Linked DNA regions of Homo sapiens. The protein of the gene in region 2 interacts with the protein of the main gene of each other region in a biochemical or structural test. Each region holds a gene or a part of one and is shown on either strand. Other genes may lie near its edges. The genes, in order: CSNK2A1, SNCA, SNCAIP and CSNK1A1.

The links.
Region 1: of the proteins of SNCA (region 2) and CSNK2A1, one has a biochemical effect on the other in vitro, tested with the Homo sapiens proteins (3 studies listed by BioGRID and IntAct).
Region 3: the proteins of SNCA (region 2) and SNCAIP form a complex in vitro, tested with the Homo sapiens proteins (3 studies listed by BioGRID and IntAct, with this or other methods).
Region 4: of the proteins of SNCA (region 2) and CSNK1A1, one has a biochemical effect on the other in vitro, tested with the Homo sapiens proteins (3 studies listed by BioGRID).

Annotation. Positions count from the first base shown.
Region 1 is NC_000020.11:540,772-548,166, reverse strand, and holds the start of CSNK2A1 (casein kinase II subunit alpha), read left to right. Parts: upstream 1-4,376; 5' UTR 4,377-4,495; intron 4,496-7,395. UniProt on the Homo sapiens protein: Catalytic subunit of a constitutively active serine/threonine-protein kinase complex that phosphorylates a large number of substrates containing acidic residues C-terminal to the phosphorylated serine or threonine.
Region 2 is NC_000004.12:89,827,131-89,834,161, reverse strand, and holds part of SNCA (alpha-synuclein), read left to right. Parts: intron 1-5,977; coding exon 5,978-6,019; intron 6,020-7,031. UniProt on the Homo sapiens protein: Neuronal protein that plays several roles in synaptic activity such as regulation of synaptic vesicle trafficking and subsequent neurotransmitter release.
Region 3 is NC_000005.10:122,420,237-122,427,236, forward strand, and holds part of SNCAIP (synphilin-1), read left to right. Parts: intron 1-2,631; coding exon 2,632-3,503; intron 3,504-5,115; coding exon 5,116-5,295; intron 5,296-7,000. UniProt on the Homo sapiens protein: Isoform 2 inhibits the ubiquitin ligase activity of SIAH1 and inhibits proteasomal degradation of target proteins. Isoform 2 inhibits autoubiquitination and proteasomal degradation of SIAH1, and thereby increases cellular levels of SIAH.
Region 4 is NC_000005.10:149,548,427-149,556,454, reverse strand, and holds the start of CSNK1A1 (casein kinase I isoform alpha), read left to right. Parts: upstream 1-5,015; 5' UTR 5,016-5,490; coding exon 5,491-5,613; intron 5,614-6,089; exon of another isoform or gene 6,090-6,273; coding exon 6,274-6,380; intron 6,381-8,028. Other genes in the region: ARHGEF37 (rho guanine nucleotide exchange factor 37), read right to left, coding at 4,332-4,353.

The DNA.
Region 1 (7,395 bases), on a different chromosome or scaffold from region 2:
GATTACAGGCATCAGCCACCGCGCCCGGCCTACTAATTTTTATAAGACATAAAAATTTTTATTCTACTAATTTTTATAAGACATACATCTCCAGCTGAACGCAGTGGCTCATGCCTGTAATCCCAGGACTTTGGGAGGCCAAGACAGGCAATCACCTGAGGTCAGGAGTTCAAGACCAGCCTGGCCAACATGGTGAAATCCCATCTCTACTAAAAATACAAAAATTAGCTGGGCATGGTGGGCACCTGTAATCCCAGCTACTCGGGAGGTTGAGGCAGGAGAATCGCTTGAACCCAGAAGGCGGAGGTTGCAGTGAGCCAAGATGGCATCATTGGACTCCACCCTGGGCAACAAGAGTGAAACTCCATCTCAGAAAAAAAAAAGACACACATCTCCTAATTATTTAAATGTGCTTTTTAAATGTTTTCTGATCAAACTACTGTTTGTCTCTTGCTTTGTATCGTATAACAGAATGTCAGGGCCAGATTTCTATGTCAGGACATAATACTGTCTTCATTCTTTTCAATGGCTTTGTCACTTGCTGTGTGACATTGGACTAGTTGTTTAACCTCTCTGAGACTTGGTGTTCTTAATCTCTAAAATGGGGATTAAAAATGTACTGGCCACAGAGAGCTGTTGTGAGGATTAAATGAGTTAATAGATGTAAAGCATCTTGTACAGTGTCTGACACATATTAAGTGCTCAAAAATGTTAGTTCTCATTGCTGTGAATAGCCCCATGTCTGGCTGTACCATAATTTCTTTAACCAGTTCCATGCCTACGATTACTTATGTGATATAATGTTTGCAAAGGTGGCCACAACAATTCCACCCTCCTTATACACATGACTCCTTGCAGTATGATTTGATGTTTTTCTCATGAAGAGATGGAATCTATTTCTACTCTCCTTGAATCTGAGCTGGCCATATGACTGCCTTTGATCGATATAATACAGTGAAAATGATGCTATATCATTTCTAAGCCTAGATCTGAAGAGATCTTGCTGCTTTTGTTTTCTTTCTTCTGGGGGCCGTCATGTAAGTAAGCCTGAGTTAGCTTACTGAAGAAGCAACATGGAGGAGAACCAAGGCACTCAAGCCAACAACCCCAACCAACTGCCAGACATGTGAATGAGGCCATGGAGTTCTAACCAGTTTGCTGGCCTGTTCACTGACAGCAAACGTAAGAGTAAGCCAGGAAAGACCACTTGGAGCAGAAAAGAGCTGTCCTGGCTGAGACATGTCCAAACTGCCAATCCACACAAACATAAAATATTGTTGTTTTAAGCCACTATATTGTGGGGTGATTTTGTTAAGCAGCAATAGAAAGCAAATACACTTAGGTTCTTAGTGCATGATTAAAACTTTTGCCTGTAATTCTAGCACTTTGGGAGGCCAAGGCAGGGGAACTGCTTGAGCCTAGGAGTTCAAGACCAGCCCTGGCAACATAGCAAGACCCCATCTGTACAATAATAATAATAGTAATAATAATACTACTAAATTAAAAATGAGCCAGGCATGGTGGTGCATGTCTGTAGTCCTAGCTACTCAGGAGGCTAAGGTGGGAGGATCGCTTAAGCACAGGAGTTCAAGGTTATAATGAGCTGTGATCATGCCACTGCACTCCAGCCTGGACAACAGAGCAAGATCCTGTCTCAAAAGAGAGAGAGAGAGAGAGAGTCACTCTAATGGCCCAGGTTGAAATGCAAGCTCCATCTCCGGCATGTGACCTTGGGCATGGCCTGTGATCTCTGTGAACCTGAGTCTCCTCATCTGTACGGTGAGATACTTTTGGTTTCTACCTCATCAGGTTGACATGAGGATTAAGTGAGATGATGAACATTCAGTGTGTGGCACAGTGCAAGTACTCTCAACATCTTAACTCTTGCTTCTGCTGCTGTTGTTTGCAGAAAGACTAGCCTGAGAGGTGTGATGTGGGGGATCAGAGACAGTAAGAGTTAAGGATAAATGTTAAGTCTACAACTAGGTGAACACTTGGGATGGGAAGCCTCTTGAGACCGGAGACCTACATGAGGCTGGCGTAGTAGACGGCAGGAGTTGGGTTTCAATTATGTCCTGCATGAGTATGAGGGTTGTATATGTGTGCCCAGGTGAGCCCTCTGAATGAAGTCATGGATAGAGGCCAGAACTAGGAAGAAGAATGAAGAACTAATGCTGTGAGAGAGGCTGAGATTGGAAAGGCATGAAGGCTAAGCAATGGGAAATATCCTCACTACACTCAGATGAAAACCCAGCTTCCTTATCATGACCTGAATGCCCTGCCCACCTCTCCCACCATATTTCTTCCTCTTCTTCCCTTTATTTGCAGTGCTTCAGCCACCATGGCCTCCTTCTTCAAACTTGTGATGCTCTTTCCTGCCTTGGGACGTTTGCACTTACTGTTTCCTTCTCAAAGGGACCTTCTGAACCACTCAAGCTAAAGCTCTATACTTCACAGCTACTTATCTTTTCCTTTCGTAGCACTTATTGCTACCTGAAATTACTTTGTTTATGCATTTGTTTACCTGTGCATTACTTGCTTCTCACTTTAGAAGGTAAGCTCCACCAGTGAGCAACTGGTGTATGTCTTCCTCATAACACATCCCCAGTACCTAGCACAGTGTCTGGCTCATAGCAAATGATGAATTGTTGTGAGTTAAACAAATGTGAATACAGTTGGGAAAAACAAAGCCACAAGAGCCAAAAAGATACGTTCGAGAGGTAGGTAGAAGGGTATCATTTCCTGGAAGATGGCTTCCCAGAAACTTTGGGATTATCTTGTATAACCTCCTCAGTCCACAAGTGGGGAAATTGAGGCCCAGTTACAGGACACTGAGAGAAAAACTGTTGTGGGTTCCCAGGCAATTGGGATCAGATGTCACAAGCTGTCTAGCAGATGAGGTCCAGAGAAGGCCACAGCCACCTCCCTGAGGCCATCACTATAAGTCTGCAGCCACCACCAGCCCTAACCCCACATGGGGAAGAGGTGCCTCTTTGGGAGCAGAGGTGCTAGTCAGCTGACAAACTGTGAAGGCAGGGCTGTGGAGGGTGGAGAGGCCCATTCCTGAGACAACCAGCTATTCTGAGACAGTTAGGGATAATGGTTGGTACTGAAAGAACCTGGCCTCCTCACCCTCGTTCCAGTGCTCACACCTCTGTCCCACCAGAGGTGAGACTAATACTTGAACTCCTTTCAGCAACTCTTAGACGCTTCAGCTTTTATCAGGGCCTGCAAAGGAGAGGTTGATCATCAGATGGAGCCCTGTCCACTGGGGGCTCCCAGTCTGATGGAGGAGACAGACTGAGGTCCTCAGGTTACTGACTGATAGTGTCTGGGTTGGAGGGAGTTAAACAGAGAGGAGACCCCTAGAGGAAAGGATCCCTGAATTAGTTCAATCGGCATACAGAAATTATCCAGTCCATGAGGTGACAGTAAGAGAAGTAACTGCCAGTGTAAAGGGAGGGAGGCAACACAGCTAAGTTCCAGGAATTGTTTGCAGTCTTGTGGGTGGAATCTTCCGGAATTTGAGAAGAGAGTGGCAGAATAGGAGGCTGGAAAGGAGGGTTTGGCCAAATTATGGAGGACTCTGAATGTCAAGTGAAGAGTTTGGGCTATCTTTGGTGCATAAAGAGGTCCATGGGAGATTTTTGACCATAGGGAGACCATGATGAGCTCTGCATGGTAGAAAGTGCTTTGTGGCTGTTTTGGGGAGGTAGCTCGGGCAAGGAGAGCAGGGGTGGGAGGCAGATAGAAGGAAAAAAAAACACTGTATTTTGGACGCACAGCTCTTGGCAGGACTCCTGTAGGAGGAAGGAATTGGGCCTTGGTCTCTTGAGAGCTAGTATCCTCACTTCTCAGACTCCTGCGCCATGCCCTTCCTAGGGTCCAACTTTCATTCACTTCTTCCGAACTCCAAGTTTGAATAGAAAGTGTTGCTGAAACCCTAATTTAAAACGAGGGGTCAGAGCAAAAGAGACTTCAGCTCCCAGAATGCTTGGCTCTACAGCTCTGCAGGTCGCGCATGGTTCTTTTCAAGAAAGGGGGGCCAGCTGGGTGAAGTGTGGGAAACCTGGGTACCGCCATCTTAACTTGGGTCAAACCAACTGTTCACCTAATGGGAGGTTCGTGTTCTCTCTGTTGTCACTTGTTAACACTATTGAAATAAAATGCGCTTAACTATTGCAAGTCTCCTTATTCTGCTTTGCGTTGGGGATTCCTTCCATTTTGCACCCTAGGCCAGAACTGAATCCCTAAGGTTACAATAGGACATCCCAGCATGGCCGCATTCAGAGAGATTCCTCTGGGGGCGGAGTCGGAAGCTGTCTCGCCCCGCCTCCTGGTAGGAGGGGGTTTCCGCTTCCGGCAGCAGCGGCTGCAGCCTCGCTCTGGTCCCTGCGGCTGGCGGCCGAGCCGTGTGTCTCCTCCTCCATCGCCGCCATATTGTCTGTGTGAGCAGAGGGGAGAGCGGCCGCCGCCGCTGCCGCTTCCACCACAGGTACCTAGGGAGCAGCCAGGCGAGGTCGTTGGCGGGTGGGGTGGGCCCAGGATAGGGCAGCGGAGCGCGGCCGACCCTCACGCTTCCAGCAGACTCCTGAGCGGCCCGTCGCCTTCCCCTGCCCCCACCTTCACACATAAACCAAGCGAGGCCCCTGCAGCCCATCGGGGAGGCCCAGGGGCCACCCCTCAGGGCGGAGGGCGAGGTTTGGGGGCAGAGGCCGATGTGAGGGTGGGAACCGGCTGCCGGAGTCCAGCTTATTGCAGAGGAGAGGACTGAACTGGGTGGGGACTAGGGGACAACTTGGAGGAGGGGGTCGTCAGAGGGGGAAGGGAACTTGAGGGGTGGGGCCGCAGGGGGGTGCTGGGGGAGGGTGCGGAGGGAGTGGTGCCTGCTGGGTAGTGTGCAGTGAACCCTCCCGCGAAACTGGGCAGCTGGAGTAGGGGCCTTCTTAGGGTCCCTCTGGGCGGGGCTGAGCTTCCCACCTGCAGAGTGGGTGCGAGGTGGAGAGAACCCCAGGCGGGGTTGCTGGGGCGAAAGGGGGAAGGGACCAAGACGTGGGGCAGAACGTCTGGAGTTGGAGTTAAGGACTAGTTAGGAGCCTGGATAGAAAAAGAGGTATGGAGAGAAAGCTTGGCTAAGGGTATACATATGTTGGTGACCTTTTGAAAGAGTAGGACTTTTCAATTTTGTTTTTCGTTGTGTGTTTTTTGCAGTGTTGGAACATTGCTAGATTAAGCAGGTGATGGGTGGAGCTTCTGTAGTTTGTTTTGGGGAAGCAGAGTCAGGGTCAGGAGAAGTTGCATCTTGGCTATTGCTTTGTGTGGAGGAAAGAGTTTTGAAAAGAAGGTGGCAAATTATTTGGGAAGACTTGATTACTTTTCAGCTGTTTAATTCTACGAGAATGGGACATGGGGAGAGGAAATGAAAACTAAGAAGAGAGGCCGGGCGTGTGGCTCACGCCTGTAATCCCAGCACTCTGGGAGGCCGAGGCGGGTGGATCACGAGGTCAGGAGTTCGAGACCAGCCTGACCAACACGGTGAAACCCCGTCTGTACTAAAAATGCAAATATCAGCCGGGCTTGGTGGCGCGCGCCTGTAATCCCAGCTACTCGGGAGGCTAAGGCAGGAGAATCGCTTGAACCTGGGAGGCGGAGGTGGCAGTGAGCTGAGATCCGCCACTGCACTCCAGCCTGGGCGACAGAGCGAGACTCCGCCTCAAAAAGAAAAAAGAAAACTAAGAAGGGAAGATTTTTCCAAGAATTGGAGACTTCATTCCATCTGAGGAGTGCAGTGTAGGCCCAGTGGTTAAAAACCAGACTGCCTAGGTTCTCAAATATCAGGGCCATTGCTACTTAGCTGTGTGACCTAAACTCTCTAAGCCTCAGTTTTCCCGTCTGTAAAAGGGGGATGATGGTATTTTCTAGCTTGTGAGTTTACGGAGAAGAGTAAATAAGACAATTTGTGTCAAGTGCTTACTACAGTGTCTGGCAGGTAGTAAGTGTAGTAAGTAGCTTTTACCTGTCACTGTAAAGGGACTAGCTGGTATATTTGGGGCTCTTCTGTTCTAAGTAAAATTTATAGTCAAGAATTTGACTGTAGACAGGGCTTTAGAGTAGTATCTTTGTAGTTGTTGTAGGGTTTTGTTGTAAGTCATTTGGCTTTACTGGCTTGGTGGACCTGGGGCTGAAAGTCCAGTACCAATACTAGTTCTCCTCCGTGGTATTCTCAAAAGTTCACCTGCAGTCTTAGCAGGGCATGTTTTTGTCCTTCTGTGACTTTGAAATACTTGGCTTTGGTTTGCTATTGCGGGAGGGTGTATGACTTGAAGAAAGAATGCAAGATTGGAAATTTGCTTAGATTGATTAATCAACTGATTATACAGTTAGGTCCCCGTGAGGTGACTTTTCTTTAAAAATAAAAAAAAGCCTAGTTATGTACTCCTTTGTGGAATACAGAGAAGAGAAATACACATTTAAGGAGGAGCATGGGTTAGTTTCTAAGTAGTTATGGGTGAAGTGCCTTGCAATTTGAGGATGAAACAGGTGGCAACTCCTTTTCCATACTGCGCGTCCTTTTCCTACTCACTCATCCAGAGTGAGTCCTTGTTTTTACTATTGTCTCTATCTCTGAACATACATCTTTGTGTCACATAAGTAAAGACATATGTATGTATGTATATATACTTTACTTCACATAAGTAAAATATATACATCTTTACTTCACACTCTGTTAAAGAAAGGGATGATTTTCTTTAGGAAGTGAGTTTAAACCCTTCCATAGGACTTGGATTTGTAGTAGGCAGAATTACATCTCCCTCTTCCCAAGGTGCCATACCTTGATCCCCAGAATCTGTAGCTATCCTGTGTTACATGGCAAAAGGAACTTGGCAGGTGTAATTAAGGTTAAGAATCTTAAAATAGAAAAATTATCCTGGATTTTCTGGGTGGGCCGAATCTAGTCACTTAAGTCCTTAAAAGCAGAGAACTTTCTCCAACTGGGATCAGAGAAATGGGCAGAAAAGGAAATCAGAGATTTGAAGCATGAGAAGGACTCCATTTGCCTTTGCTAGAGAGGACCACATGGAAAGTTTATCAGAAGGAATGTGGGCAGCCTCTAGTGGCAAAGACCAGTCCCTGGCTGACAACCAGAAAGAAATGGGGACCTCAGTTGTGCAACCAGAAGGAACCTGAATTTGGTCAACAACCTGATTGAGCTTGGAAGTGAATTTCCCAGTTTCCACCAAGGAATGCAACCTTGAGACACCTTGATTTTTGGCCTCGTGAGACCCTAAGCAAAAGACCTAGCTAGCCAAGCCCACCCAACTTCTGACCTACAATAACTGTGAGATAACAAATTTGTGTTATTTTTAGCTACTACATTTGTGGTAATTTGTTATG
Region 2 (7,031 bases):
GAGTTAATTTTAAATATTTTATGAAGTGTGAATTATACCTTTTTAGATGGAATTTGGAATACTGAATCAGTGACATGCAGTTTATCAATATCTTTCCGTTTGTCCTCAGATTTCCAAGTTCTGCAAGCACAAGTTTCTTTGACTTAGTTACCTTTTAACTGTTCATTGAAATCATTTTCAATGTCTCTCATGGCATTTAACACATAGCACATTCTATAAATTTTTTATTGGTTACATTCTGAGTTCTAATTGAGAGTTGAACTTACACACAGAATTTAAGATAAAAAATGACCATGTGAAGACACAATAGTATAGTCCAGGGATTGGCAAAATTTTGGGTAAGGAATCAGATAGCACGTATTTTAAGCCATGAGATCTATGTCTTGGCCAGGTGCCGTGGCTCAGGTCTTTAATCCCAGCACTTTGAGAGCCCGAGGCTGGTGGATCACTTGAGCCCAGGGGTTTGAGACCAGCCTGGGCCACATGGTGAAACCCTGTGTCTACAAACAACGCAAAAATTAGCCGGGTATGGTAGCATGCATGTGTATTGCCAGCTACCCAGGAGGCTGAGGTAGGAGGATGGCTTGAGCCATACAGCTCACTGCAGAGGTTGCAGTGAGCTGAGATCGAGCCACTGCACTCCAGCCTGGGTGGCAGAGTGATACCCTGTCTAAAAAAAAGAAAAAAAAATCTATGTCTCAATTCTGCTGTTGAAGTGTGAAGGTAGTCATAAACAATAACTAGTGTGGCTGTGTCCCAATAAAACTTCATTTATCAAAACAGGTGGTGGGCTGGAATTGTCTTGTATGTTGTAGCTTGCTGACTACTGATAGAGTGGAAAGAACATGCACTAATCACACAAACCAAAGTTTTAGTTGAGACTACATCACTTATCACCTTTAGGGTCTTGGGGAAGCGTACTTAACATCTCTGAGCATCACTTCCCTGATTAGTAAAAAATATGATTTAGAAAACTGCAACTACCTTGCAGTTTTTGTGGGAATGTCATAATAAGACAGGACATATGAATAATTGAGCACACTTTTATATATAGGAACCATGGTTATTATTATCAAATAAACTCTCCAACGGAATAATTACTTTGCCAACACGTTTTCCATTTATTCTTTTATCCTTCATTACATAACTAGTTTGAAAGATTGGAGGCGACCAAAGACCATTTTATAATTTCACTTATGGCTGAAGATGTTTGGTAGAAGCCTCATAAGAAAAGTAATCTCATTCCTTTATAAGAATATACTTTTAACAACTACTTTTTAACTCATTGAAGAACTACCTTAATGATCAGTGTTATTTTTATGGGTTTTGTTCCCTCCATTTTTGTTATCTGCGTACACCAATTTTCAATCAACATACTTCAATTTAATAGACAAAAATTTCTTCAAATGACTCAGAAATTAATTAGATCTAAATCCAAAAGCAGAAAGATTTAATTATCTTTATATAATGCTCAGTAATATAAATGCAATAAATACAAGAAAATGATGATCTTTGAGTGTCTTCCAATGCCACTCTGCTCAATAAGCAGCAGTGGCCATCAGTGAAATTGATAGCAAATTCTCAAGTCAAAATGTGCTTCACCTCACTAAGCTGACAAAGTCAACATAACATGCACAACAGGGATAACTGAGTTCTCAAAACTCTCAGGTATTACTTCTGACCTTCTTCTCCACTCTGTGCTCTTTTGAGGTTGGGAAGACAAGATAGGGTGTGTGTGGGACACCTCCGCTCAGGGAAGCCATCAGCTCTGGTGTCCCTACAGCATTTATACCTTGCTAGTCACATAACCACTTGGCACCTATTTTGTAGGTGTACGTTATCAATTACAGATTACTCATAAATTAAAGGCTAACCATCAATTACAGATTATTAGTAAATAATTATGACCTCAAAGAACAACTGATTGGTTTGATACATGGTAACCTTATGAGGACTCTCATTTATCTCGTTTTTTTAAGTTATATACCTATCTCTTTGGGGTTGCACTACAAAAATATAAAATATGTTGCATAAGATATTTATAAAAAATAATTAATTATAAGTTCTAATGGTGTGGTTTAGTGGCATTCTTTTTTTTTTCTTTTTTTCTGAGATAGGGTCTCAATCTGTCATTTCACTCCAGGCTGAAGTGCAGTGGTGTGATCTCGGCTCACTGCAACCTCCGCCTCCTGGGTTCAAGTTATTCTCCTGACTCAGCCTCCTGAGTAGCTGAAATTACAGGCATGCACCACCATGCCCGGCTAATTTTTGTATTTTTAGTAGAGATGGGGTTTCACCATGTTAGCCAGGATGGTCTCGAACTCCTGATCTCATCATCCCCGACCTCGGCCTCCCAAAATGCTGGGATTACAGGCGTGAGCCATTGCACCCGGCCTAGTGGCATTCTTTTTTAAAAATAAATTTAATTGTGTATATTTAGGGTATGCAACATGATGCTATCAGATACATTAGACACTAAAAAATTACTATATTGAAGCAAATTAATATATTCATAATCTCTCATAGTTACCTTTTTTGTTGTTTTTGTGGCAAGGGCAGCTAAAATCCACTTATTTATCATGAATCTCAAATATAGTACAATTTTATCACCTACAGTCCTCATACATTAGATCTGTACACTTTTTCATCTTACACATCTGCTACTTGCTTGGATCCTATGGCCTATATGTCCCTATTTTCTACCTACTTTTCCACCCCTATTAACCCTGTTTTTTACGTAGTCTCTGTATATTTGAATTTTGTTTCAAGCTTCCACATATATGTGAGATAATGTAATATTTTTCTTTCTGTGTTTGGCTTATTTCACTTAGCATAATTTTGTCTGGGTTCATCCATGTTGTAAATGGTAGGATCTTGTTTTTTTAGGGCTGACTGATATTCCATTGTATCTATGTACCACAATCTTTTTATCTACCTATCTATCAGTAGACACTTTAGTTGTGGCTATTATGTTTTTCTTTTTTTCTTTTTTGGAGACAGGGTCTTGCTGTCACCCAGGCTGCAATGGAGTGGTGTTATCATAGCTCACTGTAACCTCAAACTTCTGGGCTCAAGAGATCCTCCTGCCTTGGCCTCCCAAGTAGCTGAGACTACAGGCATACATTACCATGCCTGGCTAATTTTTAATATTTTTTGTAGATATAGCATCTCACTCTGTTGCCCAGACTGGTCTCAAACTCCTAATTCAAATTTAGAATAGAGTATGACAATTCTGTAAAATATAAAAAACATGTCCACTCCGTATAGGAAGTTATACAATGAGAAGAAGACAAACACTATTTACATTACTCTTGATAAGTTTTTTACAAAGAAATAAAACACTTTAATTTCTAATGTTTTAAATTCTGGTTTGCTAAATAAATAAATATTAGTTTTAGTGTTTTTAAAATTCCTTATATAGTTATAAGTGATCTTCCTGCCTCAGCCTCCCAAAGCACTGGGATTCCAAGCAAGAGCCACTGTGTTGGGGCCCTTGGAAACAGATATGCTGAAATCTTTTCTTGTGGATCTACACCCAGAAGAGGGATTGCTGGGTCATATGCTACTCTATTTTTAATTTTTCTTTTATTTTTAGTGAATATGTAATAATTGTATATAATTGTGGGATCCAGAATTATATTTCCATACATGTATACAATGTGTGATAATCAAATTAGGGTAATTAACATATCCATTACCTGAAACATTTATCATTCCTTTGTGGTGGGAACAGTAAAAATTAAAAATTCTCTCTTCTAGATTTTTGAACATATGCAATAAACTATTGTTAAGTATATCACCCTACAGTACTACAGAATGCTAGAACTCATTCCTCATATTTGGCTCCAATTTCATATTCTTTAACCAACCTCTCCATATCCTCCCCTCCCTCTTACCGTTGTCAGCCTCTAATAATCATAATTCTACTCTCTACTTCTATCTCATTGTCTTTGATTTAGAATATGTTTCATAATTTAACCAAAGGTCAAATTCTTAGGTACTGCTAAGGCAAAGAACAAAGATCGCATTCCAGCTGTTAGACATTTCTTACTACTAGTCATTTTTAAGACAACATGGGGTGCAGGTGGTGAGGATGAGAGATAGAGATTGAAACATATTCTCTTAAATATCAGCTGTTCTCACTCTGCATAGTTCCAGCACAAACAAATTCCAGGTACTATGGTTAGTTAAATAACACCAGCCACTAACAACACAATTCAAATTTCTGTTACCACAGTATACCGAAAGTCATTGCATAAAGTACAAACTTTGCTGCTAACTCTTCAGCCTTCAAATCATTACATAAATAACAGAAACCCATTATAATCAGTGACAAAACCACAGCACTTCTTTCAAAGCTTTTTGGAGATTGGTTGCTTCACATCTGTTATGCAGTTCATACAGACAGCAATGCCCGGACTTGTGTGGCCACATTGTCTCCCAGTGGTGAGCCCATGTGATGTTTCACGAAAATGCGCAATCAAAAGAGGAAACTGGCCAGCAAAGATGAAAGAGTAGCAAACAAAGGAAGTGAAACATTCTGGAAGTAAAATTTGAATCAAACATAAGTTGATGTATACAGGAAGTAGCTACCCTGAGGATGTTGTCACTGCTGCAATTCAGGAGACTCTAAATATGCAGTCAGAGGAACGTAGTGAGGTGAAGGTATCCGTATAATGGGGAAAGAGGTTGTGATAAAGAGTGAAGGTGTCCCAGAGGAAGTGTTGCTGAAAAATACACCTTATGTTAAATACACTGTCAGTATATCATGACATTAAAGTGCAAATGATAACATTTTGTAAACTGATCCAAACTTAAAAAGGAGTATGATAATTCTGTAAAACATAAAAATCATGCCGATTCCATAAATTATACAGTGTGAATTACACTGAAAAATCCAACATTAGAGAGGATATGAATACAATTTTTTACAAGCATAATTTTAATAATACACATAATAATTATTTGTATTCAAGTTTAGTAATGTTCAAGGTTTGGAAGAAATTCTGATCCTGTGTAGAGACCCTAGTTTGAATGTGCTTATAGCCTATTATTACATGTGTAATGTTACATAAATTACTTAACTCGGATTTTTAATTTCATCAGCTATTTAAAATGGGCATAATATAACTATATTAAATGGCTGTTATGAAGATTAAATAAGATGATATGTAAAATGTGTTTTTTGTTTGTTTGTTTGTTTGTCTGTTTGTTTTTTTGAGACAGAGTCTTGCTCTGTTACCCAGGCTGGAGTGCAGTGGCACAATCTTGGCTCACTGCAAGTTCTGCCTCCCGAGTTCATGCCATTCTCCTGCCTCAGCCCCTCCCAAGTAGCTGGGACTACAGGCACCCGCCACCACGCCTGGCTAATTTTTTGTATTTTTGGTAGAGATGGGGTTTCACCATATTAGCCAGGATGGTCTCGATCTCCTGACCTCGTGATCTGCCCACCTCGGCCTCCCAAATTGCTGGGATTACAGGCATGAGCCACTGCGCCCAGCCTAAAATGTTTTTTTTACATAATGGGTGTTCAGCACATGTTAAAGCCTTCTCTCCATCCTTCTTCCCTTTTGTTTCATGGGTTGACTGATCTGTCTCTAGTGCTGTACTTTTAAAGCTTCTACAGTTCTGAATTCAAAATTATCTTCTCACTGGGCCCCGGTGTTATCTCATTCTTTTTTCTCCTCTGTAAGTTGACATGTGATGTGGGAACAAAGGGGATAAAGTCATTATTTTGTGCTAAAATCGTAATTGGAGAGGACCTCCTGTTAGCTGGGCTTTCTTCTATTTATTGTGGTGGTTACTGGAGTTCCTTCTTCTAGTTTTAGGATATATATATATATTTTTTTCTTTCCCTGAAGATATAATAATATATATACTTCTGAAGATTGAGATTTTTAAATTAGTTGTATTGAAAACTAGCTAATCAGCAATTTAAGGCTAGCTTGAGACTTATGTCTTGAATTTGTTTTTGTAGGCTCCAAAACCAAGGAGGGAGTGGTGCATGGTGTGGCAACAGGTAAGCTCCATTGTGCTTATATCCAAAGATGATATTTAAAGTATCTAGTGATTAGTGTGGCCCAGTATTCAAGATTCCTATGAAATTGTAAAACAATCACTGAGCATTCTAAGAACATATCAGTCTTATTGAAACTGAATTCTTTATAAAGTATTTTTAAATAGGTAAATATTGATTATAAATAAAAAATATACTTGCCAAGAATAATGAGGGCTTTGAATTGATAAGCTATGTTTAATTTATAGTAAGTGGGCATTTAAATATTCTGACCAAAAATGTATTGACAAACTGCTGACAAAAATAAAATGTGAATATTGCCATAATTTTAAAAAAAGTAAAATTTCTGTTGATTACAGTAAAATATTTTGACCTTAAATTATGTTGATTACAATATTCCTTTGATAATTCAGAGTGCATTTCAGGAAACACCCTTGGACAGTCAGTAAAATGTTTATTGTATTTATCTTTGTATTGTTATGGTATAGCTATTTGTACAAATATTATTGTGCAATTATTACATTTCTGATTATATTATTCATTTGGCCTAAATTTACCGAGAATTTGAACAAGTCAATTAGGTTTACAATCAAGAAATATCAAAAATGATGAAAAGGATGATAATCATCATCAGATGTTGAGGAAGATGAGGATGAGAGTGCCAGAAATAGAGAAATCAAAGGAGAACCAAAATTTAACAAATTAAAAGCCCACAGACTTGCTGTAATTAAGTTTTCTGTTGTAAGTACTCCACGTTTCCTGGCAGATGTGGTGAAGCAAAAGATATAATCAGAAATATAATTTATATAATCGGAAAGCATTAAACACAATAGTGCCTATACAAATAAAATGTTCCTATCACTGACTTCTAAAATGGAAATGAGGACAATGATATGGGAATCTTAATACAGTGTTGTGGATATGACTAAAAACACAGGAGTCAGATCTTCTTGGTTCAACTTCCTGCTTACTCCTTACCAGCTGTGTGTTTTTTGCAAGATTCTTCACCTCTGTG
Region 3 (7,000 bases), on a different chromosome or scaffold from region 2:
ACAGAATTCATTTCCATAGAGCGTTTTTAATGGCTCCTGTCAGAACAAAACAGCTGGGAAACATATGGTATCCATTTCCCTGTATCACTTGGAAAAAATTTCACATGTAAATAAAGCCAACATAAAAGAGTAGCCCTTTGAACCTACGACCTTATATAATACATAAATATATTGGTACAATGCACTCGTTGTATTGACCTACTAAGTTATGTGGCTTTAAAATTTTTTATTACATTCTGAGATGCACATTTTCTAGAGCTTCCAAAGAAATCAAGGTAATTGGCAAAATATTACTAAATATACTCAGTAATAAGAGTGTATCTCAGAAATGTCTATGAGTATATATATATTTTTTTTTCCATTTTATTTAAAGCCTTGCCGAAAGTTGATGAATAAAATTAAAGGCATATTTGCATCTTATAAACTCTATGTCCACTATCTGCTGTTTTAATTAAATAAGTAACCATGTGTTCTTGAGGAGAGAAGACTTGGCAGAAATTTCTGGCAGTCATTAATTTTTCATGGCTTTATATTTTTAGAGAGAAAAGTTCATATAAAAGATAGAAAACTTCTTAAATTTATGAGACCAACTGTAATTAGTCTTTGCCTTTGCATATTTACATTTCATAAATAACTTTAGCAAATTGATCTCTTACTGGTGATTATCACTCCACTGAGTTTATAACAGGATTTTGTCCCCTGTGAAATTAAACTGTAAATCCCTCAGAAGGATGCACTTTGTGCATTTTAGAAGATTTAATGTGTTGTGCAAAGTGAGATTCAAATTCACATACTAGCATTTGTTAATTGTCTGATCTATGCCAAGCACTGTGTACAACTGAGAACTAAAGCCAGCAAAAGGGAAGAAAAGCAGCAGCCTAAGACCATCTAGATACCTTCCTTCCCTTCTGGAACATTCTCTTCTACATTACTTATTGGAGAGAATCGAGCCCTCCTTCCACAGCTCGTAGTATTCTCTTCTTAGATTCTAAAATGTCAGAGCCAGAAAGGTCTGAGAAGTGGACTGCATAGTGCAGACCCTTGGAAACCTCATGCAAAACTGTGGTCAATTTCAGGGAAAGAACTCACTGATAGTTATATAGCATTCAGGCTCAGAGCACTCACTCTCATCCCGTTAGCTTGGTTCCAGAACTTCTCTGAATCCTTTTAGAACATATCCCAGCAGGAAGAAGAATGACCAGTAGCTTAAATTTAGGGAACTTTAATAATGTATGTTCCACTTTCACCCTAAGAATCAGTCATAGCCAGAGGCTATGGCAGAAGTTATAGATGTGAGTATACACCCATCTCATGTTCTTTTTTTCTTTGGTTGTTCCCAGTAGCAAAGAACACACACATACACATGCTTCCCACTTGTTTCAGAAGAGAAGCGGTAAATGGAAAGTCCCTAGTTGTAGGGCATGCCCCCTGAAATCTCATCCTTTGATGGGGGATGATAGGAACTACATGGCAGGGAACTAGGAACCCATAAATCAGTGGCCTGCAAGTTTCCAAGGGTACTGGGTCATCTTTTATCTAGCAGTGGAGTGGCCCAGGGAGGAAGCAGTATAATCATATCTGAGGAGACTGTTATTGCTCCATCTGCTTGCCTCAAGAGAAGGCACCAGGCAGCCTCTCATAACCAGGAGAGATGGCTCTTATCTTTCACCTCCAGGTGTGTCTGGCTGTTTCACTTTCTACTCTATCGCAACCAGACACTTACTCAAATGCAAACCAACACACAATCTTTATCCAAACTTTGCACAGAAATTAGAAAAAAAAAAAAAAAAAACCACTCTGCCTGACCCATTTTCTTTTCAGAACTTTCTTCTCCTGTTTGTTTCCAGCCTTCTCAACAATGGAGGGCAGTATTGAATCCTAAAGAACATGTTCTGTTGTGAAGTGTTAGTGCATTCTGTCACTGTGTCATATGTCAGAAAGCACCATGAAATGTTGCTGCATGATAGTTGACCAGGGTACTTTGACCAAGGTGGGGTTAACTCAACTATGTCTTCTCTCCCACAGTCCTTTCAACTCCTGAGCACTGTATTCCTTCCTATTCTTTCCCTAATCCACTTAATGGCACACCTAGGGAGTCACTCAAGGAGGTCATAGTTTGAATTTGCTCAATATTAAATAATTTGCCACTTCTTTTCATGGGACTTCTTGTGCATTAGGGGTGTATGTGGACATGCACGCTAATGTGTGTGCATGTGTGCATACGTCCCTTTTCTCCCTAAATCAGTTTGGAAGTTTATTTAACACTGAAGATCTTATTCTCTAATCTTGTTTTTCAGGGTGGTGACAAATATAAAAATATTGCCAGGGAGGTAGATCTATCCAGGGAATAAACCTAAATACCTATCTGGGTTTGCTTCCTTAGCCATTTACCTGTACCATTATTATTACTTTAATTAATTTTGAGTCACTGTGTTATAACCTTCTTTGATCATTCACTGTTTTCCAATGGTAAGTATGATTTTTTTTGTTCTATTGATGTGCACTCTAAGTCATCCTCACACACAGAACCTTAATTTGAACATAATGTGAATGAACCACATCTACCTGCATAGCCAAGATGTGTTCAGCATTCCAGATTAATAGCTTTCTATTTTAATTTTTTAAAAACAGTTTCTAGCTCTAGCTGGAATTGTGGCATCTCAACTCTTATTACAAACACGCAAAAGCCCACAGGAATCGCTGATGTGTACAGTAAGTTCCGCCCAGTGAAGCGGGTTTCGCCACTGAAACATCAGCCAGAGACTCTGGAGAACAATGAAAGTGATGACCAAAAGAACCAGAAAGTGGTTGAGTACCAGAAAGGGGGTGAGTCTGACCTGGGCCCCCAGCCTCAGGAGCTTGGCCCTGGAGATGGAGTGGGCGGCCCACCAGGTAAGAGCTCTGAGCCCAGCACATCGCTGGGTGAACTGGAGCACTACGACCTCGACATGGATGAGATTCTGGATGTGCCTTATATTAAATCCAGTCAGCAGCTTGCCTCTTTTACCAAGGTGACTTCAGAAAAAAGAATTTTGGGCTTATGCACAACCATCAATGGCCTTTCTGGCAAAGCCTGCTCTACAGGAAGTTCTGAGAGCTCATCATCCAACATGGCACCATTTTGTGTTCTTTCTCCCGTGAAAAGCCCTCACTTGAGAAAAGCATCAGCTGTCATCCACGACCAGCACAAGCTGTCCACTGAAGAAACCGAGATCTCACCTCCTCTGGTTAAATGTGGCTCTGCATATGAGCCTGAAAACCAGAGTAAAGACTTCCTAAACAAGACATTTAGTGATCCTCATGGTCGAAAAGTTGAGAAGACAACACCAGACTGCCAGCTCAGGGCCTTCCACCTACAATCCTCAGCAGCAGAATCCAAACCAGAAGAGCAGGTCAGTGGCCTAAACCGGACCAGCTCCCAAGGCCCAGAAGAAAGGAGTGAGTATCTGAAAAAAGTGAAAAGCATCTTGAACATTGTTAAAGAAGGACAGATCTCTCTCCTGGTAAGTATAATCTAGTTCAGTATACATGTCAATAGACTGGAGACTCCTTTTTAATAAACTGCATTCGTTAGTAACAGAACGATGCTGCATTTGTTTTGGTTTTTACTTAATCTTTACTTGTGGCTTTAGTTGGGAGATGTGACCTTTTGAGTTTTAAAATAAGAAGTTATGAAGTTAATACAGGGAAAACAAATAACTATAGAGGGAGTGTTATTTCATTTTAACTTTGCATGAATTCAACTGAAGACTCTTAATCTCAAAGAGAGCCCGGCACTTTCTTTAACTTGAATCTCAATGTCTTTCTTTTTGCTTTTCAAATGGTTCCCAGTGCTCTCACGCAGCTATTTGTGAGGATGTCAATTCTTGGCTGATGGTGGACCTGCCAGACATGTAAACAGAGGGTCTTCTGTTTTGTCCTGATCATTATTCAGAAGAATTGGACCAGGTTGTTTGAAAAGCATTTGTAGATAGAAGCTTACCCAAGGGCTTCATTGCCCTCTGACCCAGGTGGAGTTTTTACTTACTTCCAGCTCTGCATGTCTAGGGAGCATGAAGAAGCTTTTCCAAAGACTCTAGACACAGAGTAACATGATGTAAGAAAAGTCTGTTCTGCTTTGGCTTAGAGAGAGCTAAACTTAAATAGCACTCCATCTGCCTACATTGTTCTTTTCTGGCTTCCAGACTTGGATCAAACAGTAGCAAGCCTGGGCTCGTACTATGATGCTAATTAAAGTCTCATTCAAGAAAATCATCACATCTTGGCAATGTGATTCTACTTAGTATAAAGCCATGCATACTTAAGTACAATGTACTTGCTCTATTATCACAAATACTATTGTGATAGGGTAATATAATTGAATAATTTTATGAAATAAAGTAGTATTTTTTCTCCTGAAAATGTCTTTTCCATTTTCCTGGCTCTTCCCCCTAATTCTCTTTGGTTCATTCCTTTCTTTTGTCCTTCTCATGTTTTCATGTTTCCCAAATGCTAAAAACACCTCTTAGCTCACCCAACAATCTCTATCAACGAGTTCATAGTCAAGGGACAAAAACTTCACTAGAGATGAGAAACCAAAGCCATGTAGCCTCCAGATACCCCCAGGAGTTTGTTTGATGACAGTGTCTAGAGGTACCTATGAGAGCACTAGTAGCAGCAGTCATCATGTTGTTTGCCATAGCCAGTTCTCTACAATTCAAGGCAAAATAAACAGGTAGAGACAAATAGCTCATTCATTCAACAAACATAGAACAGGGAATAAAACCCAGCCCCAGCCCTCAAGGACTTCACAATCAAGTAGGGGAGACAGACAGGGAACCTGACAATTACTGTAAATGTAATTATAGTTCTTTAGAAAGCCAACTTGAAGCCTCCACACCTCATTGGCCCTAGCCCTGTTGCCATGTCTCGTATGAAGATCTGTCTCTCGAGAACTCATTTTCTAAAGCATATTGTAACAAAGAATAATAGCAAGAAACTGATTTATTAGATCCCCAAGGCTGCCACCAGAGCTTCTATAAGCTCATTTCTTCTTTCCAGTGCCCAGAGAAAAACTCCTACAGGGTCTTGCTCTGATTTATTGACTTGGGTTTTCTAATCTTACTATTTATACAGCCACACCTAGCTGCAGACAATCTAGACAAAATTCACGACGAAAATGGAAACAATCTATTACATATTGCGGCGTCACAGGGACACGCAGAGTGTCTACAGCACCTCACTTCTTTGATGGGAGAAGACTGCCTCAATGAGCGCAACACTGAGAAGTTGACTCCAGCAGGCCTGGCCATTAAGGTGACTGGTTGGGGGCTGGAACCTCCACAGCTAGAAGCTGGATTTCTATTTTTTAAGATTCCTTGTGAGCTAAAGTGTTGGAAGGGAGAGAAGAGAGTGATTTGTCAAGCAAAGAGCAAATGAACATATTGCATTTAAGAGAGTAATCATTTCAGTCACTGCTTTGAGATTTTGAGACTTAATTCCCAGTTTTTGTCAATCTGCTACTAAAGAGAAAGGAAAATGATATGTTGTAGTTCTAACAACTTTTGTTATTCATAGGGATTGCAATTAAGCTTCTTAACCACACCTGGATCTATCAAAGACTATCATTTCTTCCTAATATGACAATAATGAGCAAGACGAATGTGGGGAAGGTGTGTTTTAAGGATGCTAGCACTCGGGAGTATTTCAGATCACAAAGTGGGCGCTTAACGGATCACATCTGAAGTTTGAGTGTCTTCAGTATCAAGAATTTTTTAGAGTATCAGTGCCGAGTTTGAGTTTAGCTCTTGCAGAGCACAGTACGCTACCAAAAACTACACAAATTAATGTCGACTGGAATAGAGTTAAAACCTAGAAACTGTGAGACAAGAAACATGGACTTTTATAGCACTGCAGCAAGTGCCTCTGCAAAATATAGCACATCACTAGAAGATTAGCTATTCAACTAAAATTACCTAAAAGATCTTTGGCAAATAAATGTAGAATCCAATCATATTTATTAAAAAGCCAGAAGTGACATTCAGGGAAATATAATACATCTTGTATTTTTGCATATGTGCTTTGCTTTACATAATAGTTGTGTCTTCTAAAAGCTGAATAATCATAATTTTTATAAATTTAATTATATTGAAATTGGTGAGGGGAATTTGTTAGAGAAACCTACATGTGAATTCACTAAAGAACGTTACATTTAAAAAACCATTAACTGCTGTTCTACCTTAATATATTTTTTACGCAAACCTGATTTTTTTGTATTTTTAATTTGATGATTCAGCAAAGTTTTATACATTAAAAAATAATTTCCATTTTATTTAATTTTGCTCGGTTAAGCAAGGTAATTAATAAGGTATACTTCAAATCTAGCATAGAAGATAATTTTTTAAATAAAATAAATCTATGACCCTGGTAGGTATTATTTTGCTTTGGTTGTAAGTGATATGATGTTGAATTAAGAAGTAAACTTCAGGCAGCTATCATGAAGAAAGATAAATAGAACTAAACTACAGGCAGCTATCATGAAGAAAGATAAATAGAACTAAACTACAGGCAGCTATCATGAAGAAAGATAAGTCAAATGTAAAGTCGAGATTTAATATAGTTGAGCTTAACAAAGTGTACCAAGTTTACCAGGTACTGCGTTTGGTGGCTGGCAATACAAATTTGTATAAGTCATAGTCCCTACTCTTAAGGAGCTAATATTATTGCTAGTGGATAAGACTGGTAAGTTATCAGTAACACAAGTATAGGATGGCAAATTTGGGATATAGCCCTGTGACAGAGTTCTGTAGACATCAATGAGCATGTGTCAGTGATAAATATTCTTGCAGTGCTAATGAGTGTTAAGATTTGCCTTGCTGTTTTAGTGTTTATAAAATACAGTTCTCATTAGTCTTCCTAATGGTAGATTATTTATATAGGTAGAAGAAAATAATTTTTTTTAATTTGTATGCCCTAGGGCTTGTTTTGATAGATTAAAAATCTCTGAGTAGAAGGTACATAA
Region 4 (8,028 bases), on a different chromosome or scaffold from region 2:
AATTGCACCATTGCACTCCAGGTTGGACAACAAGAGCGAGACTCCATCTCAAAATAAATAAATAAATAAATAAATAAATAAATAAATACAAAAACTAGCTGGGCATGGTGGCATGTGCCTGTAATCCCAGCCACTCAAGAGGCTGAGGCAGGAGAATCACTTGCACCCGGGAGGCGGAGGTTGCAGTGAGCTGAGATCGCGCCACTGTACTCCAGCCTGGGCGACAGAGTGAGACTCCATCTCAAAAATAAATAATAAATAAAATAAACAACACTTGGGACACTGACGTTTCTAAGGCATTCCATTTTTCTATTTACTTGCACCAAACAATTCTAGAGATTGGCAGGCTACCCTTCTGTTTTTAGCATCCATCTAGACTTCTTGTGCTTGTCTCTATCATTTCACTCAAAGCACATTCTGGATACCAGTGACCGTTGCTTGAGTAAACACTGTGGCTTAAAAAAATGGTTTTTGTTTTTATTATTTTAAAACATTTTTGTAGTGATGTGGTCTATGTTGCTCAGGCTGGTCTTGAACTCCTGGCCTCAAGCGATCCTCCTATCTCAGCCTCCCAAAGTGCAGGGATTATAGGCATGAGCCATCACACCCAGCCAAGAAAAAAAAAAGTTTTAAAATTCATCTTGAATTCCCTACGAACACAGAAGTAATCCCTGGGACATGATTGTCCTAATTTGTGTTCTACTCTTTCCTTTTTCTCTTTCTTTTGGTAGTAGTTGTGGCTCTAGTCCTGTCACTGCCACTAAGATCTCTATGATTTTGGGCAAGCCACTTTGTCTTACTGGGGCACAAATGATATGTGTGAAAGTACTCTAAATTGCAGGCTGGGTACAGTGGTTCTTGCCTGTCATCCTAGCGTTTTGGGAGGATGAGGCGTCAGGATCACTTGAGTCCAGGAGTTCAAGACCAGCCTGGGCAACAAGGCAAGACACTATTTCTACAAAAAGTTAAAAAAAAAAAAAAAATTAGCCAGGCATGGTGGTGCCTGCCTATAGTCCTAGCTACTGGGGAAGCTTGAGGCAGGGGGATTGCTTGAGCCCAGGAGGTCTAGACTATAGTGAGCTATGGTGGTGCCATTGTACTCCAGCCTGGGTGACAGAGTGAGACTTTGACTCATAAGTAAATTGCAAAGCATTAAAAAATACAATTATTATTATTGAACTAGGTGATCTCTGTATTTCCCTCAAGGTCTAAAATTTTTATTTTTATTCTACACTTTTGATATTTTTAGTGAATTCATCTGATCTAGAAGCCAGAAATTGCTCTTTGAAGACTCCTTTCTTTCTTTCTTTTTTTTTTTTTTTTTGAGACAGAGTCTCACTCTGTAGCCCAGGGTGGAGTGCAATGGCACGATCTCAGCTCACTGCAACTTCCGCCTCTCGGGTTCCAGCGATTCTCCTGCCTCAGCCTCCTGAGTAGCTGGGACTACAGGCGCCTGCCACCACGCCCGGCTAATTTTTGTACTTTTTAGTATAGACGGGGTTTCACCATATTGGCCAGCTGGTCTCGAACTCCTGACCTTGTGATCCGCCTGCCTTGGCCTCCCAAAGTGCTGGGATTACAGGCGTGAGCCACCGTGCCTGGCCTAAAAGACTCCTTTCATTACACCAAAGCTGCTGCTGATTCAATAAGTACAGAATGATTTGTGACTTTAACAGCAACACCAAAAACAGGTTATTCTTCAATCTTTTAGGCTAAAATTACTGCAAATGATACATGACTTTAAGAAGAAGGCTGAGTCATAGCCAACACCTGAGGACTTCATTTTCTATGTAAAAAAAAAAAAAAACAATTTTGCCATTCTTAAATCCAATAAATTTAAATCTTAAGAAACTAAAATCACATTTGAAAAGGCTAGACCCACTCACATCTCATTTTTGTGCATTTTGCTGGGCACTGTCAGTGTTGGAATGGTGACTATAGCAGGCAGGAAACAAAGGAGGACTCATACCTTATATACAAAATTATAGAATCTCAGGGTTAGAAGGGTTTCCAGAAGTCATTTAGACCAGTAGAATTTAATGGGCTTACACAAGTTCTAAAAAAAAGGCGAGGAGGATTAGACATACAAGTACCTATCATTCATTCATTCATTCATTCATTTATTGAGACAAGGTCTCACTCTGTTGCTCAGGCTGGAATGCTGTGGTTTGATCATAGCTCACAGCAGCCTGGAACTCCTGGAGTCAAATGATCCTCCTGCCTTGGCCTCCCAAAGTGTTGGGATTACATGCATGAGCCACCGTACGCAGCTTTCAACTTTTTTTTTGAGACAAAGTCTCACTCTCTTGCCCAGGCCGGAGTGCAGTGGCACAATCTCGGCTCACTGCAATCTCTACCTCCCCAGTTCAAGCGATTCTCATGCCTCAGCCTCCCAAGTAGCTGGGATTACAGGCATGCGCCACCACGCCCGGCTAATTTTTGTGTTTTTAGTAGAGACAGGGTTTCACCATGTTGGCCAGGATGGTCTCGAACTCCTGACCTCAGGTGATTGCCCTTCCTTGGCCTCCCAAAGTGCTAGGATTACAGGTGTGAGCCACTGCACCCGGGCTCAACTTTTAACCGAGCAAGAATATTTTAAAAACCAAAACCATCTACCATCGGCACCTTTTTATAAAAGAGCATTTTAATGACACATATGTGAAAAGACTAAATCTCAGAATGAAATATAATGTGAAATCAGATAAATAAATGAAAGATGTATTGCTTACTTTTCTCACATCCTCATGGCAAACTTTGTTAGCCACTTGCACCTGTCCATACACAGATCTTTGGGAATCACTAATTTAGACCACTTCATGCCCACCCTTACCCTGCCCCCGGCTTCATTGAGCATTTTTATCACAATACCAAAATATCCGTCTAAATGTATACCTCATCCCCTTATGGAGAACTCCTCAAGCTGAGGAATCCATTAAACTTTGGATGTGTGTGAGAAAATTAGCAGAAAAGGAGTGATCTCTGGAAAACTCAAGATGCTTAAACTTGGCTTTTTTTTTTTTAAGACCAGAATTGATTAATTAATTAATTTTTTAGATGGAGTGGAGTCTCGCTCTGTCTCCAGGCTGGAGTGCAGTGGCACGATCTCGGCTCACTGTAACCTCTGCCTCCCAGGTTCAAGCGATTCTCCTGCCTCAGCCTCCCTAGTAGCTGGAGCTACAAGGCACATGCTACCATGCCCAGCTAAGTTTTGTATTTTTAGTAGAGACAGGGTTTCACCACGTTGGCCAGAATGGTCTCGAACTCCCGACCTCAGGTGATCCAGCCGCCTCGGCCTCCCAAAGTGCTGGGATTACAGGTGTGAGCCCACCATGCCCGGCTGCATTTTATATCAGAATTTAACAGCAGATTTTAACTTAGTCAAAACATGCTTTAGAGTCACCAAAGGAGAATGATGTCTAACAGTGCTGATTTGGGAGTTGGGCACCCTGAGTGTTGGTTGGGCTTTAAAAACTTCATGCTAAACTTCAGGGGAAGTCTCCTCCCCTCTCTCTTCAGTTGTCTTCCGAGATGAACCCTATTACTAATTACTTGACCACCTTTCAAAGTTGCAGTTAAAATTCTTCACATTTTTCTCCCATTTCTATTTAATTAATTATTTTTTTTTTGAGACAGGGTCTCTCTGTTGCCCAGGCTGGAGTACAGTGGCGTGATCTAGTCTCACCGCAACCTCCGCCTCCCGGGTTCAAGCGATTCTCAGACTCCCGAATAGCTGGGGTTACAAGTGTGCGCCATCACACCCGGCTAATTTTTGTATTTTTAGTAGATACGGGGTTTCATCATGTTGGCCAGGCTGGTCTCGAACAACTGACCTCAAGTGATCTGCCCGCCCCGGCCTCCCGAAGTGCTGGGATTACAGGCGTGAGCCACTGCGCCCGCCCCCCATTTCTATTTTAATTAAATTTTATTTAGGATAGGCTTAGCTTAAATTTTTACGACTGAGGTCTGACTTAAGATGATAGCATCAACCATGGAGTTTTCTTTCGTGAACATTATTATTACTAAGCCCAATTTTCCCAGGTCAAATTTTGTAAAACAAAACGTGGTCAAAATTTGATTCTCTGATCGATTTTTTGTAAAAAAGAAAAAAATTACCGTGTAGTTTTAAATGTTGTCAATTAAATTTTGTAATAGTTACCTCTACTCTGTTCAGGTTAATACTGAGGTTTTCAACAAGACCAACATACGATTCTTTTTTTTTTTTTTTTTTTTTTTTTTGGTGGGGTTGAGGGGACATAACAGTTTTTTCACTCTTGTTAAATTAATTTTCTGTTGATTCCATCTATCCTTAATCTTCATTATGAGCAACATACCAGGTTTTCTTCTGAAGATCATATGTGGTAGTGAGGCAATAATGCAAAGACATAGGATGGCAGGGGGATTCCGGCTTCTTTCTTTCTTCCCCTCCTGTGGAAAGAGGGTCTATAACACTCCGTAGTAGATAGGACAATTCTAATTATGAAGGGTAATTAGCTAGGCTCTGCTACAACCGAGAGCCCTGAGAGATTCCTCGACGCTGGCTGCTTTTCTCTTCCTCTCCACCAGAGGCGACAGCCTCTTTCCAAACAGAAACTGGGTTGGAATAGGCCGGTCCGGGGGAACGGCCAGAAGAAAGATCAAAGGTTAAAAACCGCCTCAAAGAGCACAGGTCAATACCCAACTCCTAAGGAGGCCTTAAGCTTTCATCTGCCACGAAACATGAAGGTGACTCCTCCCAATATCAAGGCCGGGGGGCCACTCAGCCTTCCAGAGACCCGGCGGGTCCGAGGCGAGTAACAGGTAACACCTGCTGAGCCGCCGCCGACCGGAAGTGGAAGAGAGCCCGGGACGGGGGTGAGGACAGGCCGCGGCACGCCTGCGCAGTCAGCAGGAGTTGCAGCGCTCATGCGCAGCTGGGCGGTGACAGGGTGACGCTCGGAGCGTGGGCCGCGACTCTCACGGATCCGGTTCCGCCCTCTCGCTGCCGATCCTTCGGAGCGAGCGCCCGAGATCCCTTTCCCAGAGTGCTCTGCGCCGTGAAGAAGCGGCTCCCGGGGACTGGGGGCATTTTGTGTTGGCTGGAGCTGGAGTAACAAGATGGCGTCGTCCGCGGAGTGACAGGGGTCCCTCTGGGCCGGAGCCGGCGGCAGTGGTGGCAGCGGTATCGCCGCCCTAGCTCACCGCGCCCCTTTTCCAGCCCGCGACGTCGCCGCGCAAGCGAGGCAGCGGCGGCCGCCGAGAAACAAGTGGCCCAGCCTGGTAACCGCCGAGAAGCCCTTCACAAACTGCGGCCTGGCAAAAAGAAACCTGACTGAGCGGCGGTGATCAGGTTCCCCTCTGCTGATTCTGGGCCCCGAACCCCGGTAAAGGCCTCCGTGTTCCGTTTCCTGCCGCCCTCCTCCGTAGCCTTGCCTAGTGTAGGAGCCCCGAGGCCTCCGTCCTCTTCCCAGAGGTGTCGGGGCTTGGCCCCAGCCTCCATCTTCGTCTCTCAGGATGGCGAGTAGCAGCGGCTCCAAGGCTGAATTCATTGTCGGAGGGAAATATAAACTGGTACGGAAGATCGGGTCTGGCTCCTTCGGGGACATCTATTTGGCGATCAACATCACCAACGGCGAGGTAATCATCTGGGGTGGGGTTCACGATAACGCTGCGCTTTTACTCATTCCCCCCACCACCACCGTGCACCCCCAAAGTGCTCGGGCCTCTCCTCATCGCACGCACTCGCCAGGGAGTCCAGGGAGCTAGTTTTCCTGGCTTACGAACCTCGTCCGCTGTCTCCCTAAAAGGGTCAAGAACCCGATAGAAAGGTTGGGGGAACTAGTTTCCCACCTTGTTAAACACGTCCCATAAATGTCCCTTAGTCGAGCTTTTTTTTTTTTTAACCGTCTTTTAAGGTGGAAACGGCAAAATCCTCTTTCAGTGATTCCCATGTTTTTTTTTTTTTAATTCTTAATTCTACTGGGCCTCTTGTTCCAATTAGAACAGTTTCCGATCGCCTAGTTCCTTAAAAACCTCTCACTACGTTCAGAGGTTGCCTCTTTTTTCTGGATGAATCATTTTCCTGCACTTTAGAGGACGTACGGATTTCGTCACTACCCCCTGAAGAGGCCTTTGAGGCTGGTTGCCTCGTTTTATAATTACCGAGAGCTTTCTCTTTCCAGCTTTTCACTTCTTCTTGTAGTCGCGACTTGGAGTTTTGCTAATGTCTCCCTCCTTTCCTAAGTGACATTGAATCCGTAGGGATGTTGATGCCATCATCCCCTCTTTCCCCTGCAGGAAGTGGCAGTGAAGCTAGAATCTCAGAAGGCCAGGCATCCCCAGTTGCTGTACGAGAGCAAGCTCTATAAGATTCTTCAAGGTGGGGTTGGCATCCCCCACATACGGTAAGAACCCGGTGCATATAGGCGATCCGCTGAGGGAAGCACGGAATGGGGAAGTGGGTAGAGGCAGGTAATGAGACCAGCTGAATCCGGGTCTTGGTGTTTTAGTTACCTGGGTTCCCTATAGCTGGTGGTTTCCTGTAAGTCAGTCATCTCAATTACTGAGTAAATTTCAGTTTGCCAACTTATTTCATTGTATTACACTGCTCCATTTCGCTTCCGTCATTCTCACTCTTCCCGAGGCTTTCATTTGCAGTTATGCGTGCAGGTCATCTTTGATCCCTACGCGGAAGGGTTGGCTGCTGCCTTTTTTACGGCGGCACTTCTGATGTACTTAGGTTTGTCCAGTGAAGTGGATTTGAAGGTGCCGAAGCGACCCGGCAGTGTCAGTTCGAGTTGCTATTGGAGCTGGCTTGGGAAATGGCTGCTCTTTTGTTGTGTTTTTGTTCCAACATGTCTTCCTCCTCCGCTTAGAAAATGGCGGAACGACGTGACTCAACCCCATATTCCTGCCCTTTTCTCAGCTTGAGTTCACAAATTATGCTTCCTTGATTCCTCCTTTAGCAGCCCCGAGTGGATTAAACCTTTGAAAAGCCAAGAATAAAGCTGCAGGAGGCGGTGTGGAGGTTCGAGGAAGGAGATGGCATAGTGACAGTGTTTGTGATCTCTGCAGCAGATGTGACACGAAATTGTTGAATTACACTATGTAAAATCCTTCGTAGTTCTTTTAAAAGTGTTAATTACTCTTTCTTTTCGTGAATGGTCATATTTGGCACGTTTCAGTCGGGACTAAATTTGTATAGGTAGTGGCAAAGGCAGTTTGAGCAGCACCAACTATGTTAAAATTTACTCATATCAGTTGTATTTAAAAAAATCTTAATCACTTAGCCACACTTTGATAAGTAATTTTAACCTGTTGAGTTTGTCAGTAAATCTTCACATCAGAGAAATTGGGGCCTTTGTTGGTGTGGAATATTGGTGAGTGCAAATAGCAGTAACGAGGATAAAAGATGACGAGATAGACATTGTTCTGTCAAATGGTTAACTTTACTTTGGAGGGTTTTAATGTTTTAACTTTTGGGATTAAAGATCCTCTTCATGGAATGGAGACTAAAATATAGTTTAAAGCCCAGCTATTTTCCAGCAATAATCTAAAATAACATTTGCAAAATTATTCAGAATAGGTAAGAATGGTACTTACTGTTTACTGGAGCCTCTTCTTTAAGACGGAGTTTTCGCTCTTGTGGTCCAGGCTGGAGTGCAATGAATGGCACGATCTTGGCTCACTGCAACCTCTGCCTCCCGGGTTCAAGTGATTCTCGTGCCTCAGCCTCCTGAGTAGCTGGGATTACAGGCGCCCGCCACCACGCCTAGCTAATTTTTGTATTTTAGTTTCACCACGTTGGCCAGGCTGGGCTCGAACTCCTGACCTCAGGTGATCTGCCTGCCTCGGCCTCCCAAAGTGCTGGGATTACAGGCATGAGCCACTGTGCCCGGCTTTTTTTTCTTTTGAAACGGAGCCTTACTCTGTTGCCCAGGCTAGAGTGCAGTGGCGCAACCTTGGCTAACTGCAGCCTCCGCCTCCCAGGTTCAAGTGATCCTCCTGCCTCAGCCTCCCAAGTAGCTGGAATTGCAGAGCTGCACTACTACG